Homo sapiens: one gene and its partner. The protein of the gene in region 2 binds, or shares a complex with, the protein of the main gene of each other region. Each region holds a gene or a part of one and is shown on either strand. Other genes may lie near its edges.

Region 1 (3,137 bases), on a different chromosome or scaffold from region 2:
GGATAAGAGTGACTAATGTATGCTGAGGGCCTACTGTGTGTCAGGGGCTTTATGTACACTCTCTCAAGTGTCTTGACAACAACCCAGGAGGGAGGAGCTATTTTCGTTGTTTACCAGATGAGGAAATAAAGGCCCAGTGAAGCGAAATGCTCTGCTGAAGGTCACACAGTCAATAAACAGCAAGCTGAGACTTGAACCTGTGGTTGAATCAAAGCCTCTTTCTATAATAGTTTGTTTTCTCTGAAAGGTGAGAAGAAGAAAACACAGATGGAAGAGGCACTGAGGGAAGCAGAGGGAGAGAGAGGAAGAGAGAGAAAAGCAGGCATGTGCAGTTACAGAAGTAGTGGGCCCTAGCTGGGCCTGGTGGCTCATGCCTGTAATCCCAGCACTTTGGGAGACTGAGGTGGGAGGCTTGTTTGAGCTCAGGAGTTCGAAACTAGCCTGGGCAATGTAGTCAGACCCCCTTCTCTACTAAAAATTTTTAAAAATCAGCTAGGCATGGTGGCACATGCCTATAGTCCTACTCAGGAGGCTGATGTGGGAGGATTGCTTGATCCTGGGAGGTAGAGGCTGCAGTGAGCTTGATCAGGCCACTGTACTCCAGCCTGGGTGACAGAGTGAGACCTGTCTCAAAAAAAAAAAAAAAAAAAAAAAAAGAAGTAATGGGCAATGAAGAAATGGCTTGCAGCTCTCAGGAAACCAGAGCACAGCCCTTACCCTGCTGCAGAGCAGCTGCAAGGCCTTAAGCAGCCCCTGACCTGAGCATCTCCTTCCCCTTCTGGAAAACTGGCAGGCTGGACTCAATCACTAAGTGACCTTCCAGCTCCACCATCGATGAAATGTATAAATCAGACCCTGTTCAGAGAGATTGATCTGGTGTCTCACCCACCTCCTGTCAGCCTCAGGCTGCCTAGACCTTAGGGGGCTCTGGAATGCAGATGCCGACGTAAGCAGGCCTTCTGCTGGCACCGGAACACCTGAAACAACAGTGTTTAAAAACAAGAGTTTGGCCCCAGCCTGCTCCAGATCTCCCCCTCACTAACTGTGGGATCCTGGGATCATCTTTGAGCCTCATTTTCCTCACGGGTAACATATGAATAATAGTACATATTTTGCAGGGTTGTTAGGATTAACTGAAAGACAGAGAGAGAGAGTGGGTGTGCCTGTGTGTGTGTGTTTGTGTGTGTGTATGTATATATATATATATTTTAGAGACAGGGTCTTACTCTGTTGCCGAGGTTGGTCTCAACTCCTGGCTTCAAGTGATCTTCCTGCCTCCATCTCCCAAAGCGCTGGGATTACAGGCATGAGCTACTTTGCCCAGCCTACTGTGTATATTTTTAAGACCTTTTTTTTTTTGAAGACACAGTCACGCTCTGTTGCCCAGACTGGAGTGTAGTGGCATGATCATAGTTCACTGTAACCTTGAACTCCTGGCCTCAAGCAATCCTCAGCTCCCTTGGAGTTGGGACTACAGGTGTGCACTACCACACCCAGCTAATTTTTTAAATTTTTTGTAGAGACAGTCTCACTATGTTGCTCAGACTGGTCTCGAACTCCTGGGCTCAAGTGATCCTTCTGCCTTGGGCTCCCAAAGTGCTGGGACTGCAGATGTGAACCCCCATGTGCAGCCAAGACTTTATTCTTCTAGAGCAGTTTTAAGTTCACAACAAAATTGAGAGAAAGGTACAGAGAATTCCCGTATCTCCCTGTCCCCACATGTGCACAGCCTCCCCCGTGATCAACATGAGTTAATATTTTTCAGGAGCTTAAGATAGTGCCATGTAAGTGTAGGTCAGTAACTGCTTTTTGGTCACGACTGTATGACACAATCCACAGGCATGCCAGCCTGGGCTGGTGGGTAGGCTCGGTCTTGAAGAGGGAGGGGTTGTTCTCTGGAGGTGGGCTGACCCTGGCACCTGGCTGGCTGGTCCCCACAGGCTGGCAAAGGAGGAGGTGAGCCGGCAGGAGCTGAGGCAGCGGGTGCGCATGGCTGACAACGAGGTCATGGACGCCTTTCGCAAGATCATGGCTGCCCGGCAGAAGAAGCGGACTCCCACCAAGAAAGAAAAGGACCAGGCCTGGAAGACTCTGAAGGAGCGTGAGAGCATCCTGAAGCTGCTGGATGGGTAGCCCTCACCCCTGCCTCAGGCTGATTATCTGGCCTAGGGGAGGGGAAGGGAGGCCCACTTCCTTCTTTGGGCACAGGAAACATTGGCCTGTGGCTGTCCCTCAAATGGCGGCAGTCTCTAGAGGGCCGTGGCCCTTCCCCTGAGGTCTTTTGGCCTAGCTCTGTACAACCAGGACACAGGAAGCCCTGCTGGGCTAGCCTGAGGCCTAGTCTCTGCTTGGTCCCCGAGATGGGGTTGGAGGGGACTTCGTTTCTGGGTCTTCCTCTTCCCCTCTTTACCATCCCCCACTCCCTAATCCCCTACCCCTGTCTCCCCTTCAAGGACTTCTCCCTTGTGGTTTTGTAAAGTGCAAACTTAAGAATAAAGTGACTGCTGTGGTTTTTCAAAAAAAGCATCCAGTCTTTGAATGTCTGTTACAGTGGGGAGGAAGGAACCAGTGTGGGTGGTAAGGTTTGTGGGGGGTATGCTTGGTGGCTCTCAGCCCATGGCCACTAACCCATGGCATTCAGTCAGGGAGAACTTTCTGAGTACCTCTTTCTGAGGATACTTGTGGCTGCACGTAACAATGCCCCCCCAGCTCAAAGTGGATTCACAGTAAGGAAATGTGTTGGCTGCAGGATGGGCAGTCCTGGGACAGAGTGGCCTTCACGGTTAGCCAATCTAGCAATTCTTCAGGGTCATCAAGGGTCCAGGTTTCTTTTTTTTTTAATTTAAGTTCTAGGGTACATGTGTACAACGTGCAGGTTTGTTACATATGTATACATGTGCCATGTTGGTGTGCTGCACCCATTAACTCGTCATTTACATTAGGTATATCTCCTAATGCTTTCCCTCCCCCCTCCCCCAAGGGTCCAGGTTTCTTAGGGGTCACCACACTGCCCTCCACAGTGTCGACCTCTGCCTAAGGTGAGTCCTTCTCTGGCTGTAGTGTGGCAGTGGAGCAGTTGGGGCCAGATGCTTCCTCATTTACATCCAGCACAGGAGGGAGCCGGAGCCAGCGGGCTT
Region 2 (7,130 bases):
AAGACAATGGGGAGCCATTGGGAGGAGTGCTGCACAGAAGCCACATAGCTGTCCATTGGATGTAGGGACCTGGACGTCACTGGTGACCCATTGATCCCCTGCCAGAGGAGTAGTGGGGGCAATGCCTGGGTGGGTCATCCTGGATCTGGGCCTTCCTGTCTGAGGTGTGGATGCATCACTTTGGCGCACGGGAGCCTACCTTCTGGTGCTGTGCGTTGTTGGAGTGAGTCATCAGCTGCTGTTTTTGTCGGTTTCTTATTGTGCTATACCCTGTGAACAAAACAGGTTCCAGCATTTAGGCACTGCAGCCAAACTGGGGAAGACCAAACACATAGGCAGAAAGCCCAGCTACTATCCAGCCTGGCCAACATGGCGAAATCTTGTTTCTACTAAAAATACAAAAATTAGCTGGGCGTGGTGGCACGTGCCTGTAATCCCAGCTACTTGGGAGGCTGAGGCAGGAGAGTTGGGGGCAACAAGAACAAAACTCCGTCTCAAAAAAAAAAAAAAAAAAATTTAGCCATCCGGGCGTGGTGGCAGGTACCTGTAATCCCAGCTACTCAGGAGGCTGAGGCAGATAATTACTTGAACCCGGGAGGCGGAGGTTGCAGTGAGCTGAGATCGCGCTGCTACACTCCAGCCTGGCGCCAGAGCGAGACTCTGTCTCAAAAAAAAAAAAAAAAAAGAAAAGACTGGGTAATGTATAAAGGAAAGAGGTTTAACTGACTCAATGCTGGGGAGGCCTCAGGAAACTTACAGTCATGGTGGAAGAGGAAGCAAACATGTCTTTCTTCATGTGGCTGCAGCTAGGAGAAGTGCCGAGCAAAAGGGGGAAAAGCTCTTTATAAAACCATTAGATCTTTTGAGAACTCACTATCAGGAGAACAGCATGGGGGAAAATGTCCCCTTGATTCAGTTATCTCCACCTGGTCCCGCTCTTGACACGTGGGGATTATTAAAATTCAAGGTGAGATTTGTGCGGGGACACAGCCAAATCATATCAGTCATCTCATTTTCACAGCAACCCTGTGAGCTAGAGAGGGCAGGAATTATTGTGCCTGTTTTACAGTTTAGGACACAAGGGCTCAGACTGATGAAGGCCTTGGCCAAATTCACATAGAAGGTGACAGGGCAGGAATGGGACCTAGTTCTGTGAACCCCAACACTTTGGACTTTGTCTAGCTTCACCGTTCTTGACCCACTGGCCAGTCTGTTTCCTTCTCTGAGCCTCACTTTCCTCATCTGGGTACTCAGAGCTCCTTGTTTAGAAACTCCAGAGCACGAGCAGCAAGGCTGGTGTGGAGGGTGTTGGATCACACTCCTGGGCTCTCCGGGAGGCTGGGCAGCTTTTCCAGTCTTCATTCTCCACTCCCAGCTCCACTGGGGCCATGTCAGAGCGAGAAGAGCGGCGGTTTGTGGAGATCCCTCGGGAGTCTGTCCGGCTCATGGCGGAGAGCACGGGCCTGGAGCTGAGCGATGAGGTGGCGGCGCTGCTCGCAGAGGACGTGTGCTATCGTCTGAGAGAGGCCACGCAGGTACACTCCCCTCACCCCCTGATACCTCCAACTTTCCTTGTTTCTGCCTTTTTACTAACCTCCACCCTCGCTGATTTATTCAAGTGTACACTGGGTGCCTGCTCCATACAACAGAGACAGTCCATGCCTTTACAGAACTCTACTTGTAGCTGTCTGGGCTTCCAGCAGACAAAGCGCTTGCCAGGCATCTTCCCATGTGCTCCTCACAACAGCCCTGTTGGGCAGGCAGAGCGGGTAGATACTCACATTCTGCATGTGAGAAACTGAGGTGTTGACAGAAGATGTGACACCCGGGGGGTGTTTTTGTACAGGAGCAGAGACGGAATCTAGGCTTCTGATCCCTAAGCGTGGTCTCCTGTTTGCCTTCTCTCCAGTCTGGCCCACTTCATTTGGGGTTTCCCATGCCCCCTGCTTCACATCCTTTGACTCTGGCTTTTGTTCCCTCCCTCCCAGAATAGCTCTCAGTTCATGAAGCACACCAAACGCCGGAAGCTGACGGTTGAGGACTTCAACAGGGCCCTCAGATGGAGCAGCGTGGAGGTGAGTGGGGTGCAGGCTACAGAGGGCTCAGGTGGCATGAGGCCACTTCCATGTCCAGTTCAGGGCTGGCGATGTGGTGAGACATTAAGACCAAACGCTGCCGGGCATGGTGGCTCATGCCTGTAATCCCAGCACTTTGGGAGGCCGAGGTGGGCGGATCACTTGAGGCCAGGACTTCAAGACCAGCCTGGCCAACATGGCGAAACCCCTTCTTTACTAAAAATACAGAAATTAGCTGGGCCTGGTGGTACATGTCTGTAATCCCATCTAGTCAGGAAACTGAGGCATGAGAATCGCTTGAACCTAGCAGGCAGAGGTTGTGGTGAGCTGAGATTGCACTCCAGCCTGGGCAACAGAGCAAGACCCTGTCTCAAAAAAAGAAAAAAAAAAAAAAAAGGCCGGGCACAGGAGCTTACACCTAAAATCCCAGCACTTTGGGAGGTGGAGGCCGGCGGATCACGAAGTCAGGAGTTTGAGACCAACCTGCCCAACATGGTGAAACCTCGTTTCTACTAAAAATACAAAAATTAGCTGGCCGTGGCGGTGGGCGCCTGTAACCCCAGTTACTCAGGATGCTGAGGCAGGAGAATCGCGTGAACCTGGGAGGCAGAGGTTGCAGTGAGCTGAGATTGTGCCACTGTACTCCAGCCTGGGTGACAGAGCAGGACTCCATGTCAAAAAAAAAAACAACCAAAAAAACACAAAAATTAGCTGGGTGTGGTGGTGGGCACCTGTAATCCCAACTACCTGGGAGGCTGAGGCAGGAGAATCGCTTGAAACTGGAAGGCGTAGGTTGCAGTGAGCCGAGATCACGCCACTGCATTCCAGCCTGGGCGAAAGAGCAAAACTCTGTCTCAAAACAAAAAAAAGAAAAAAAGACTAAACGCACACATAAGGGAAGCAAGACCCTGATAGCAACAGCAGACCAGGTGCTAGGCCCAGCCCACCTGGGCTATGTGTTCAGAAAAGAGGGAGAGGAGGCCACTGGAGGCCCAGAGGTTAGAGAAAGCTTTTTGGAGGAGGTGGGACTGGAGCTGGCCCTTAAAGGGTGGTGAAGAACTTGAGCTTGGCTTAAACTAGGCCAAGAGGAAAAGAAGGCATTCAGGCTAAGGGAGGAGCCTGAGCAACAGTGTGGGTGTTAGGGCCTCATGGTGTGGTTTTTCTGGAGCGGTGAGTTGAGAGAGGAAGGCTATGTTTAGAAGACATTAGTGAGTTTTCAAAGTTGAGTGAGTGTGAATAAGGAGGACCAGTGCTTGGTGTGGGGCTCAGGACCCTTCCAGTTATGGGAGGAGCGACCATGTTCTTTCCCTTGACCCAGGGAGCCCCGGATGCTCCAGGCAAGTCCCCAGTGGTGGCTCTGAGTCCCAGGCTTCCACCACTTTTCTTGGGACTTCTGGACTTCCTTCAAACGTGGGCTCTCTGCTCTGGTCAGTGGAGCCTCATCCTGGATCCTGACGCCTGCTCCCTCCCTGGATTCAGGCTGCTCTCCAATTCCCTTTTTCCTCAGGCTGTGTGTGGTTACGGATCACAGGAGGCACTGCCCATGCGCCCCGCCAGGGAGGGTGAACTCTACTTTCCTGAGGATCGAGAGGTGAACCTGGTGGAGCTGGCCCTGGCTACCAACATCCCCAAAGGCTGTGCTGAGACAGCTGTCAGAGGTGGCTGCCGGGGTCCTGCATGGGTTGGGGATGGGAGTTGGGCCGTGAAGAGAAGTGGTGATGGGCTGGCTGGTGGAAGAGGCAGAACTTGGAGGGGTAGGCGGTACTCTAAGGGGCAAAACGCCAGGCTGACACATCTCTCTGCACTGCTTCTAGTTCATGTCTCCTACCTGGATGGCAAAGGGAACCTGGCACCTCAAGGATCGGGTAAGGGGTGATGTAGGAAACAGGCTCTTTGGATGAATTTTCTCCCTTAGGTTCTGAGGGTGGTGCCTATGTGCCCCCGAGTCTGCGTCTAACATGTGTTTACCCATGCCTGCCTTGTGCCATGGTCTGAGTGGGCGCTGGGCTCTGCATGGAGGGCTCAGAGTTGGAGATGGGGGCCCAGACCTGTAACTAGTCATAATGCAGCATGTTGGATGCTAAGACAGAAGTCTGGGCAGCATGCTGGGGCGGTGTTTCACCCCCAGGGTATGCTGAGCAGAGCTTCACAGAGCCTGAAGCTCTCAGGAGTCCGTCTGGCAGAGGGTGGGTGGAAGACAGGACAGAGCACAGAGGTGTGCAGAGCCTAGATGGTCAGGGCTGAGCAGGCTCTAAGAGCAGTCTCTTGCCCTGGTTGTCCTGTCAGAAAGGCTTCTTGTGGATGTGTGTGGGGATGGTGGTTGAGGGGGAGGAGGCTGGAGAGGCCAGGAGAGGGCCAGCTCTCCACCTGTCCCTGCTTCCTGCCTGTCCTCTGGCAGTGCCCAGTGCTGTGTCTTCACTGACAGATGACCTTCTCAAGTACTATCACCAGGTGACTCGTGCTGTGCTAGGGGATGATCCGCAACTGATGAAGGTGAGCGAGTGGGCCCAAGTTGGGGCACAAAGTTGAAATTGTAAATTCTAGACCTGTTTTTTTTTTTTTTTTTTGAGACAGAGTTTCGCTCTTGTTGCCCAGGCTGGAGTGCAATGGCATGATCTCAGCTCACCGCACCCTCTGCCTCCCAGGTTCAAGTGATTCTCCTGCCTCAGCCTCCTGAATAGCTGGGATTACAGGCGTGTGCCAGCATGCCCGGCTAATTTTGTTTTGTTTTGTTTTGTTTTTGAAACGGAGTCTTGCATTGTCACCCAGGCTGGAGTGCAGTGGCGCGATCTCGGCTCACTGCAAGCTCCGTCTCCTGGGTTCATGCCATTCTCCTGCCTTAGCCTCCCGAGTAGCTGGGACTACAGGTGCCCGCCAACATACCCGGCTAATTTTTTGTATTTTTTAGTAGAGACGGGGTTTCACCGTGTTAGCCAGGATGGTCTTGATCTCCTGACCTTGTGATCCACCTGCCTCAGCCTCCTAAAGTGCTGGGATTACAAGTGTGAGCCACCGTGCCCAGCCTTATATTTTTAATAGAGACGGGGGTTTCAGCATGTTGGTCAGACTGGTCTCGAACTCCCGACCTCAGGTGATCCACCCGCCTTGGCCTCCCAAAGTGTTGGGATGACAGGTGTGAGCCACTGTGCCCGGCCTAATTCTATGAACATTTAAATTTTTATTTATTATTTTAATTAAAAAAACATTTTTTTTAAGATGGGGTCTTGCTCTGTCACCTAGGCCGGAGTGCAGTGGTGTGATGTTGGCTCACTGCAGCCTCTACCTCTTGGGTTCAAGCAATTCTCCCACCTCAGCTTCCCAAGTAGCTGGGATTACAGGGGCATACCACCATGCCTGGCTAATTTTTGCATTTTTAGTAGAGATGAGGTTTCACCGTGTTGGCCAGGCTGGTCTCAAACTCCTGACCTCAGGTGATCCACCCGCCTCTGCCTCCCAAAGTGGTGGGATTACAGGCGTGAGCCTATATATATATATATATATATATATTTTTTTTTTTTTTTTTTTTAGAGACAGGGTCTCACTGTATTGCCCAGGCTGGTGAAACTCCTGCCCTCAAGCAATCCTTCCTTGGCCTCCCAGCACTTTGGGAGGCAGAGGTGGGCGGATCACTTGAAGTCAGGAGTTCGAGACCAGACTGTCCAACATGGTGAAACCCCATCTTCACTAAAAATACAAAATTAACTGGCTGTTGTGGTGGGTGCCTGTAATCCCAGCTACTCGGGAGGCTGAGGCAGGAGAATTGCTTGAACCCAGGAGGCAGAGGTTGCTGTGAGTCAAGATCACACCACTCAGGTGGATCACCTGAGGTCAGGAGTTCAAGACCAGCCTGGCTAACATGGTGAAACCCCGTCTCTACTAAAAATACAAAAATTAGTCACGTGTGGTGGTGGACGCCTGTAATCCCAGCTACTCAGGAGGCTGACGCAGGAGAATCGCTTGAACCTGGGAGGCAGAGGTTGCTGTGAGCTGAGATTGTGCCATTGCACTCCAGCCTGGGCAACAAGAACAAAACTTCATCTCAAAAAAAAAGATCACGCTGCTGCACTCCAGCCTGGCTGATAGAACGAAACTCCGTCTCAAAGAAAAACGAAAAAGTAATACTAGTACATGTTTACTGTAGAAGTACATATAATATAAAAACATAGAAAAAGAAAGTGGCTGGGTGCGGTGGTTCACGCCTGTAATCCCAGCAGTTTGGGAGGCCGAGGTGGGTGGATCATGTGAGGCCGGGAGTTCGAGACCAGCCTGGCCAACATGGTGATTTCCCGTTGGATATCTACTAAAAATACCAGAAAATTAGCCGGGCTTGGTGGCATGCGTCTGTAATCCTAGCTACTTGCGAGGCTGATGCAGGAGAATCGCTTGAACCCAAGAGGCAGAGGTTGCAATGAGCCGAGATCGCGCCACCGCACTCCAGCCTGGGCAATAGAGTGAGACTCCATCTCAAAAAAAAAAAAAAAAGGGCCGGGCACGGTGGCTAACGCCTGTAATCTCAGCACTTTGGGAGGCCGAGGCGGGTGGATTGCTTGAGGCCGGGAGTTCGAGACTAGCCTGGTCAACATGGCAAAACCCTGTCTCTACTAAAAATACAAAAATTAGCTGGGCGTGGTGGTGGGCGCCTGTAATCCCAGCTACTTGGGAGGCTGAGGCAGAAGAATTGCTTGAACCCAGGAGGCAGAGGTTGCAGTGAGCTGAGATTGAGCCACTGCACTCCAGCCTGGGCGACAGGGCGAGACTCCATCTCAAAGAAAAAAAAAAAAGAAAAAGAAACTGAAAAGTCTATTCCTCCACCTACTTTTTTTTCTCTGTATCAACTATGATTACTCTCATAAAAACCTAAGTGGTATTATATTAAGCATCTGGTTTTATAGATTGCCTTTCTCAGTTAAAAATGTTGGATGGCCGGGCGCGGTGGCTCACGCCTGTAATCCCAGCACTTTGGGAGGCTGAGGTGGGCAGATCACGAGGTCAGGAGATCGCGACCATCCTGGCTAACACGGTGAAACCCCGTCTCTACTAAAAAATAGAAAAAAT

What was found. Proteins that work in one complex are often made in the same cells at the same time.
Region 1: TAF6L (region 2) and TADA3 share a complex: the UniProt entries of both Homo sapiens proteins name them as parts of the STAGA transcription coactivator-HAT complex.

The regions. Positions count from the first base shown.
Region 1 is NC_000003.12:9,779,353-9,782,489, reverse strand, and holds the end of TADA3 (transcriptional adapter 3), read left to right. Parts: exon of another isoform or gene 1-807; coding exon of another isoform or gene 808-977; intron 978-1,940; coding exon 1,941-2,133; 3' UTR 2,134-2,523; downstream 2,524-3,137. UniProt on the Homo sapiens protein: Functions as a component of the PCAF complex. The PCAF complex is capable of efficiently acetylating histones in a nucleosomal context. The PCAF complex could be considered as the human version of the yeast SAGA complex.
Region 2 is NC_000011.10:62,774,396-62,781,525, forward strand, and holds part of TAF6L (TAF6-like RNA polymerase II p300/CBP-associated factor-associated factor 65 kDa subunit 6L), read left to right. Parts: intron 1-199; coding exon of another isoform or gene 200-270; intron 271-1,375; 5' UTR 1,376-1,388; coding exon 1,389-1,535; intron 1,536-1,988; coding exon 1,989-2,075; intron 2,076-3,582; coding exon 3,583-3,733; intron 3,734-3,889; coding exon 3,890-3,940; intron 3,941-4,473; coding exon 4,474-4,568; intron 4,569-7,130. UniProt on the Homo sapiens protein: Functions as a component of the PCAF complex. The PCAF complex is capable of efficiently acetylating histones in a nucleosomal context. The PCAF complex could be considered as the human version of the yeast SAGA complex.